2 linked regions of the Homo sapiens genome follow. The protein of the gene in region 2 purifies or fractionates together with the protein of the main gene of each other region. This does not show direct contact. Each region holds a gene or a part of one and is shown on either strand. Other genes may lie near its edges.

Region 1 (3,500 bases), on a different chromosome or scaffold from region 2:
CCCGTCTCTACTAAAAATACAAAAATTAGCTGGGCATGGTGTGGACAGCTGTAATCCCAGCTATTATTAGGGTGCCTGAGGCAGAAGAATCACTTGAACCTGGGAGGCCAAGGTTGCAATGAGCCGAGATTGCACCACTGCACTCCAGCCTGGGTGACAGAGAGAGACTCAGTCTCAAAAAAAAAAAAAGATAATATTCAGTGTTCACAACATTGAGGGAAAGGGGCACTCTCATTTGGTTTATGTGTGTGTGTGTAGTGTCTGTAGAAAGTAATTGGTATCTATCAAATGTTTACACATTACTGCAGTAGAGTATATAGCACAGTGGTTGAGAGTATGGGCTCACTTCCAAGGTTTAGACTTACTGCCTCTGCTATTGTGACTCTCAACAGAACACTCAGACTCTGAGCCTCAGCATCTGTATCTCATATTATCAGAGGGTTGTTTTGAGAATTAAATGAAACTGCATAAAAGATGTTTGGTTCAGGGCCTGGCATATAGTAATATCTGCTGCCATTCATTTTATTAATAATTACTAATAATAATGACAGGCCAGGTATAGTGGTTCATGCCTGTAATCCCAGCTCTTTGGGAGGCCGAGGTGGGTGGATCACCTGAGTTTGGGCATTCAAGACCAGCCTGGCCAACATGGTGAAATCCCGTCTCTACTAAAAATACAAAATTAGTCAGGCGTAGTGGTGTGCACCTGTAATCCCAGCTACTCGGGAGGCTGAGGCAGGAGAATTGCTTGAACCCAGGAGGTGGAGGTTGCAGTGAGCCGAGATCACGCCAGTGCACTCCAGCCTGGGTAACAGAGTGAGACTCCATCTCAATAATAATAATAATAATAATGACAATAGTGTTAATATGATTGTAAAGCTACTTATTTCTCTGAGATATAACTAATGCCTTCATTCTAGTTATATTTTCTTACTGAAAAACTATCGTATTTCCATTTTGCCTCTGAATAAATGATTCAATAAGCATTGATATATACCTCATGTTTATCTTGTCTAGAAAATGAATCTCATTCTAATTTATGGCAGGTTAGCAAAAAGAGTTTGGGCTCAGAAGGTTTCTGAAAGCATCTTTCACTTGTTTTCTTACATTTCTTCTCCCATAGTTTGGTCCTGGAATCCCTGTATCTTCTTTCTCATAGTACCTTAATCCTTGACTTTGCTTCCAATCAAAAAACAGTTGGCTTTACATCTTCTATTTACTCACTTAGAATAAAGAATAAGAATAGTAGACATATTAAGAAAAGTCGACTGTAGAACTTCTCTTGAAAGTCAGTATTCCCTGGTACAGTTGCCTTGGCCAAATGTTAAAAATGAATTTGAGGTTTATTATTTCCCATAATATAGGTTTTGTCTGACAACCCAAAGTCTTGGAAAGCAACCAGACATACCACTCATAAAGCCCAGTTTCATGTAGATTGTGATTGGTAGCTTGTTTCCTCATGCATGGACTCTTGAGAGTTTGTATTGTTATCCTGAATGGATTAAATGAATATAATGTCCTATTGATTATCTTAGGATTCTTTTTTTCTTTTCTGCGACAGGGTCTCATTGTCATCCAGGCTGGTGCTATCATAGCTTACTGCAGCCTTGACCTCCCAGGCTCAGATGATCCTCTGCCTCACCCTCCTGAGTGCCTGGGTGCACAGGTGTGCACCACTATACCCAGCTAATTTTCGTATTTTTTCTTTGTAGAGAAACGGTTTCACTATGTTGCCCAGGCTGGTCTTGAACTTCTGGGCTCAAGTGATTTGCCCACCTTGGCTTCCCAAAGTGCTAGGATTACAGACGTGAGCCACCACGCCCGGCCTTACTTAGGATTCTTAAACAGGCATTCCTGCTTTTGTTTTTTGGAAGGAATTTAGTGTATAATTAGATATTTATAGTCTTCTACTGACTTTCTAAGTTTCTTGCCAGGGTTGTGTATATGGTTTATAATGAAACATTACAGTAACTTCTGGAGAAATGGGACAGAACACGGTAAAACTGTCATGGAGAATTCCAGTTGTATCACCACTACATTTGATAAAGGACTAGCAATGGTTCTGAGGCTTGGAAGCTCTAGGTTCTTACTAGGGTTGACCTCAGTTTTGCCTCCCAGGCCTCACTTGTCAGCATTCTGCATCCACAAATCCTCGTGTTATGAGAGGATTTGACTTATAGACCTATCCCTCTCTATTCCTGAGCTAAAGCCTAGCATCATAGGAAGGAATTTTAAGGCCATCTTCTCCAGCAGCCTGACTATTCTAATAATTGCTTGAATGCGTAAAACTCAAATTGTCAAAGTTCTGAGAGCAGCATTCTTTTTTGCTTTTGACCTGCTTATAATTTTGGAGCTGGGAAGAAAAGCAAATATATTTCTTACAGTCCAATATCCACAAAGATTTCAATGGATTGGACTAAAGCTTACTGTTTATGGCAAAGAAGGCGATGGTCTCACCGTAGGACACATGAAAGCTTGTTTAGTCTACTGCAAAGGGAGGCAGGGGAAAGTGGAGCTGGTATAAAGGTGGGCCACTTGAAACATGGCATACATTCAATAATGGGGGAACTGAAGGGAGTTTAACCTAAAGATGAAAAGAGTTGGACAAGAGATATGAGTATTCTCTTCTAAAGTTAAAAAAAAAAAACAACTGTTCTAAAGAGGAAGAATTAAATGTTGCTGTGTAGCTCTCAGAGGAAGTACAAGATTTGCGGGGTAGAAATTACAGGTGACAGAGTTTAGGCCAGTTTCTAACAATTAGTAGAATTACCTGAAAAAAGACATTTTCCAGAAAGTGTTTTAAGCAGCAGATAGATGCCTGTCTGTCAAGAGTGTTGCAGAGGGAAATTTTGTATGTATCAAATGTGTATTACAGTAGATGATCTACAGAAATACTCAAATCCTTTTCCAGCACTACAATTCTTTGATTTGGTGACAGCCTTTCTTACTTAACAAGTACTTTTTTTGGCAAATGTTTATATTGAGATATGTTCTACACCTAAAATCGGCAAAAAGTTTTTTTGTGACCCAATTGTTTCCTTTTTGTTTCTGACACAACTCTGAGACACTCAGTATTGAAGTGTTTGGTTTAGTGCATTGTGGATACAACTGATTCAGAGTCAAGGAGAGCAATTATTGCCTCTGAATTTAGATAACATTTAGAGAATGAAACATAAATAGCTGTAATATAAATTAGCACTGTAAATATAGCCACAAGAAGAAACAGCATGGTCTAGTAATATCTCATAATTCTATACTGCTTTTCGGTTTTTAAAGAACTTTGATATATTACTGCATTATCACAACAACCCTATTCATTGTTATCCTCACTTTATAGACTAAGGAATTGAGGATCGACGAGGCAGTCACTTAGACGAAGGCAGAACCTTAATTTAAGCCTTGTTTTGTCTTTTTAAAAGTCCATGTTTTCTACAGTATACCATGATGCCTCTCTGGAGAATTTATTCTTTTGTTGTTGTATTATTAATTTTGAGTTTTAA
Region 2 (4,028 bases):
AGGCAGCAGAGACAAAGTAATGAAGAACACCAACTCTGGAGTCAAACAAACTGGGTTAGAGTCCCAGAGCCAGCATTCAACAGTTGTGTGATCTCGATCAAATCCTGTAACCTCTCTGGGCTTCAGTTTCTTCATCTATCAAAACAAGGATGACAGTAACAGTACCTAACCCATAGATTATCATGAGGATTTAATCAGTTACTCTTTGTAAAAGAGTTTATTACAATGCCTGGCAAATAGCAAAAAAGGAATTTTGGGGTTCCCTAGTTTCTACCATAAAAGAATTGTAGACATGGGTTATGTTGCTACTTAACAGTTTTGCTCTTGTAAATATTGCTCTGGCAATCAATACAGGATGGAGAGCAGGAGGAAGTAGAAAGAATGCTCGCAGAACTATGACTTAGGGTGTCTAGTCCTGGCTCTGCCATTAATCAGTTGTGTGACCCTTGCTAAGTTAACTGACCCCTCTGAACTCAGTTTTTTTTTTCTCTCTCTGTAAAAGGAAGGGCTTAAACTTCAGTAAATAACCGGTATGTTTTATTTAGTATTTTGCGAATCCCATTTCCAACTCTACGTTCAATCCAGTGACGGTATTTCTAGTTTATAAACTAGAAAAATAATCTTTGGCATCTGAGGGTCACAGCCGAGAGTATCTCCCTAGCAGGAGATTAGGGAGCCAGTGACAAAGTGGCACCAGGGGAACCGATGTATGCCAGGAATCCAGACAGAGGGTGACATTAGCACTTCTTTCTGCAGAACCTAAACCCTGCCCGACTCACCCGGAGGAGCTGTCACGGTGGTTTGCTGGAAACCCCCTTTCTGTTGGGAGGATTACTGGGTCACGGTTTCCCAAGGACATGGAAACCCTTGCTGAAGCGCTGGAACCGCTCGGCACGAGGCGTACGTCGGTGGGAGCTGTGTCAGCCCGCTTTCGGCCGTGTAGCTGCTCCCATCCAGACTCTAGAAGGGGTCCTCTTTGCGTCAGGCCCAATCACCCCCCTCCCCGAGCGACTGCACTGGGTGTCCCTGCGCCGCGCGTCCCCTCCCTCTCGCCCCTCCCTCCTGGCTGCCATAGAAACCAGCTTACAAGGTCCAGGCCGGCGTCCGGGTGCACTACAGGCCCCCCGTCCCTCCTTCCCCACGCCAGCCCCTCGCTCCGGATTGGTCCTTCAGGAAACGCTGTGGGGCGTCTCGGTCCCCGCTGCGGAGCCGGCCTAGGCCGGAGGGCGGGGTTTGCCCTGGGCCGCTGCCGGTCAGGTCGGCCGCCCCTGACAGCTCCGGGAGCCTCAAGCGCGACAGCGGCGCCCTCACCTCGGGACATCCACACACCGACCGCTCCTGCTCCAGAGGCAACAACCCAGCGCGCCTAGCCTGGCGCCGTGCAGCGAAGCCCAAGAGCTGGCCTCGCCACGAAGGTAAGCGAGGGGCTGGGGGACTCGCCGCCAGCACCCCCACCCCGCCACCCTTCCTCTGCTAGGCTGCAGACCTGGGTGGCTGAGGAGGAGGCGCCTCTCCTCCCCGCGACCCAAGGAAGAAAGGAAGCCCTGCCACGGGGTGTCTGCGAAGTGGGGTCAGAAGAAGGTTAGGCGCTTTCTGGGGCGTACCCCCACACCTGCCCAGGCCGATCCGCAAGCGAGAGGAGGGGGCATTAGAGCCAGGGCGAGAGCGTGCTCGCGCGTGTGTGCCCGTGTCATGTGTGGTGCCCGTGTCATGTGCGGCGCCCATGTCTATGTGCGCGCGTGTGTGCACCCATGTCTCTGTATGGTGTGGACACTCGTGTCTGCGTGCGCGTCCACACGTGAGCCGAGGAGCGCAGCTTAGCGCCTAGCGTTGCGCACAGCGGGTGCGCTGGACCAGAGCCCTAAGGCACCAGACCAAATCTGGAGCGTTTGTTACAAGGGCAGAAGACCGGCGTGATCTCCCCACGCGCGCCGGCCGGTGCTGCTGGTGGAGAGAACTGACATCTAACGCATGTGGCCCAGGAGAACAAAACCTTCCATTGCACCCCACGCCGCGACTCTCCCCAGCGAAAGGTGCTTCTTTTGGAAGACCGCACGAAGTAAGGAAGAGCCTCTTTTCCTCTTCCTGGATATCCCTCCAGGAATATTAGAAGCTCCAGGACTCCTTGATACGACCAGGAAAAGATCGCAACCGGGTCTTTAAAATATCGATTCCAGCCAGCTTCTGCGTGCTTGACACATCTTGGCAGATGGAGAAGTCAAGGCAATAGATAACATGGGCAGCAAAGATTCTGCTATAGCACTTCTTTCCTTTCTGTTTTTTCCTTCCCTCCTTCCCTCCTTTTCCCTCTTCTCCCTCCCTCCTTTCCTCCTCCTCCTCTCCCCTTCTCTTCTCCTCCTCCCTCCCTCCCTTTCTCCCTTTCTCCTCTCTTTTCCCCTTCCCTCCCCTGTTTTCGTCCTCCTGAGTACAGTAGACAAGAGGGCTCTCTGTCTACCCCCCCTCCCCCACCCCATTCCTCATCCCGTTTCAAAATAAGAGCGAATGAATCACATTCTAAGCTCTTACCCGTGCAGTTCTGACAAGTTTGGAAATTACACAAATCGCGTTTGCAATTGAGGCCGCGGGAATCCAAAAGGGAAACAAACGAAACCAGATGAAAAAAAGTGATTCCAAGTCAAGATTTCAAATGGAAATCTAAGGTGAATATTTGTTTATGGTAATAAGATTTTTTTTAATGTTTGAAAAGTATGTATCACACTAGCTTGCATCATCAGTATTCAATGTGATTCACAGAACCGCTTCAAAAGATGGTTTCTGTTAGTGTTGCAACAGCACTTCTAATTCTGGTTGTCATGGTTACTGAAGAAGTCGCCCTGCTCTATTGAGAGGCTGTCTAGTTAGAAGCAGGAACTGTTCTCCAGAGGACCTTCTCTTGTACCCTCGTTGTCACCATGGTAATAATTGAGTTTATGAAAATGTACTTACTTTTTCCCTTAAAGTACTAAAATCCCAAGGCATGTTGTTGTTTTTTTTATTTTATTTTTTCAGAGTTTGCAGTCCATGCAACACAGCTTTCCGCTCAGACAAATGAGAGTAAACACTGCCCTCCAGCAAGTTAAATGGCCCCAAATAGTCATGCTGCCCAGCTCTCTTCCCACAGCTCACTGCACGAACAGAGGACAGAGGAGGGTGTTAGATGTTCCACGAATCCTGGCCTGAGCCCAGATCGCCCTCGCCATTTAGCATTTACATTTGGAAGCCTAATTAGCTTTCTAATTAGGAGATGGGAGAATGTAGGGGGGGATTCCTGCGAGAGGCTAGTGGGGAAAAAGCTGAATCCAACTCCCCATGGACTGGTGTTTGGTGTGCCATTGAATTTGCCTAGTAAACCCTCATGGGTTTATTTTTAGCTGGACCACTGTTAAATGGTAAGCCTGGAAAAACCTTCAGAGAAGCCTCCTTCTGTGTTAGGAAAAAATGTGGATTGGATATTTGGTTTGAGGTGTGTGCTTTTTTTCTAACTACATTTAAAATAAAGACAGGTTTATATGAAATCTGAATTCCCCAGTAATAACTACAGATAGGTTATAGAGCCCTTTATATTCTTGGTTTAACCCTAGGTTTTTAGTTGAAAAGGTTTAATTTGGGGCAAGCAGTGGTACCATTTCAAATACTTTTATCAGCAAATGTTGGTTTCTTTAAAGAACCGTAATTCATTACACATCCACGATTTCTGAGCTTCAAATTCTAACATTGATAGCATGTGATTAGACAGCTTGAAGCCCTCAGACTTACAGTTTTGTTTTATTTTCTTTTCGTTTTTAGAGACTGGGTCTCGCCATGTTGCCCAGGCATGTCTCAAACTCCTGGGCTCAAGGGATCTTCCTGCCTCAGCCTCCTGAGGAGCTGGGACTACAGGTGCATGACAGACTTATCATACATTTTTAAAAAAACAAAAGCAAAGATTTTTGTCTTAGTAGGTTAATGTTTTTGTCACATATATAGTTTCATTTTGAGAAACTTAAAAATTAAAATATAACATTAAATCCAACTTCATTCTTTGAATC

What was found. The genes of interacting proteins can lie anywhere in the genome.
Region 1: the proteins of NIM1K (region 2) and PDE6D purify together in Homo sapiens (affinity purification with mass spectrometry; one large-scale study listed by BioGRID and IntAct). This does not show direct contact.

Annotation. Positions count from the first base shown.
Region 1 is NC_000002.12:231,771,283-231,774,782, reverse strand, and holds part of PDE6D (retinal rod rhodopsin-sensitive cGMP 3',5'-cyclic phosphodiesterase subunit delta), read left to right. Parts: intron 1-3,500. UniProt on the Homo sapiens protein: Promotes the release of prenylated target proteins from cellular membranes. Modulates the activity of prenylated or palmitoylated Ras family members by regulating their subcellular location.
Region 2 is NC_000005.10:43,190,997-43,195,024, forward strand, and holds the start of NIM1K (serine/threonine-protein kinase NIM1), read left to right. Parts: upstream 1-1,228; 5' UTR 1,229-1,415; intron 1,416-1,855; exon of another isoform or gene 1,856-2,660; intron 2,661-4,028.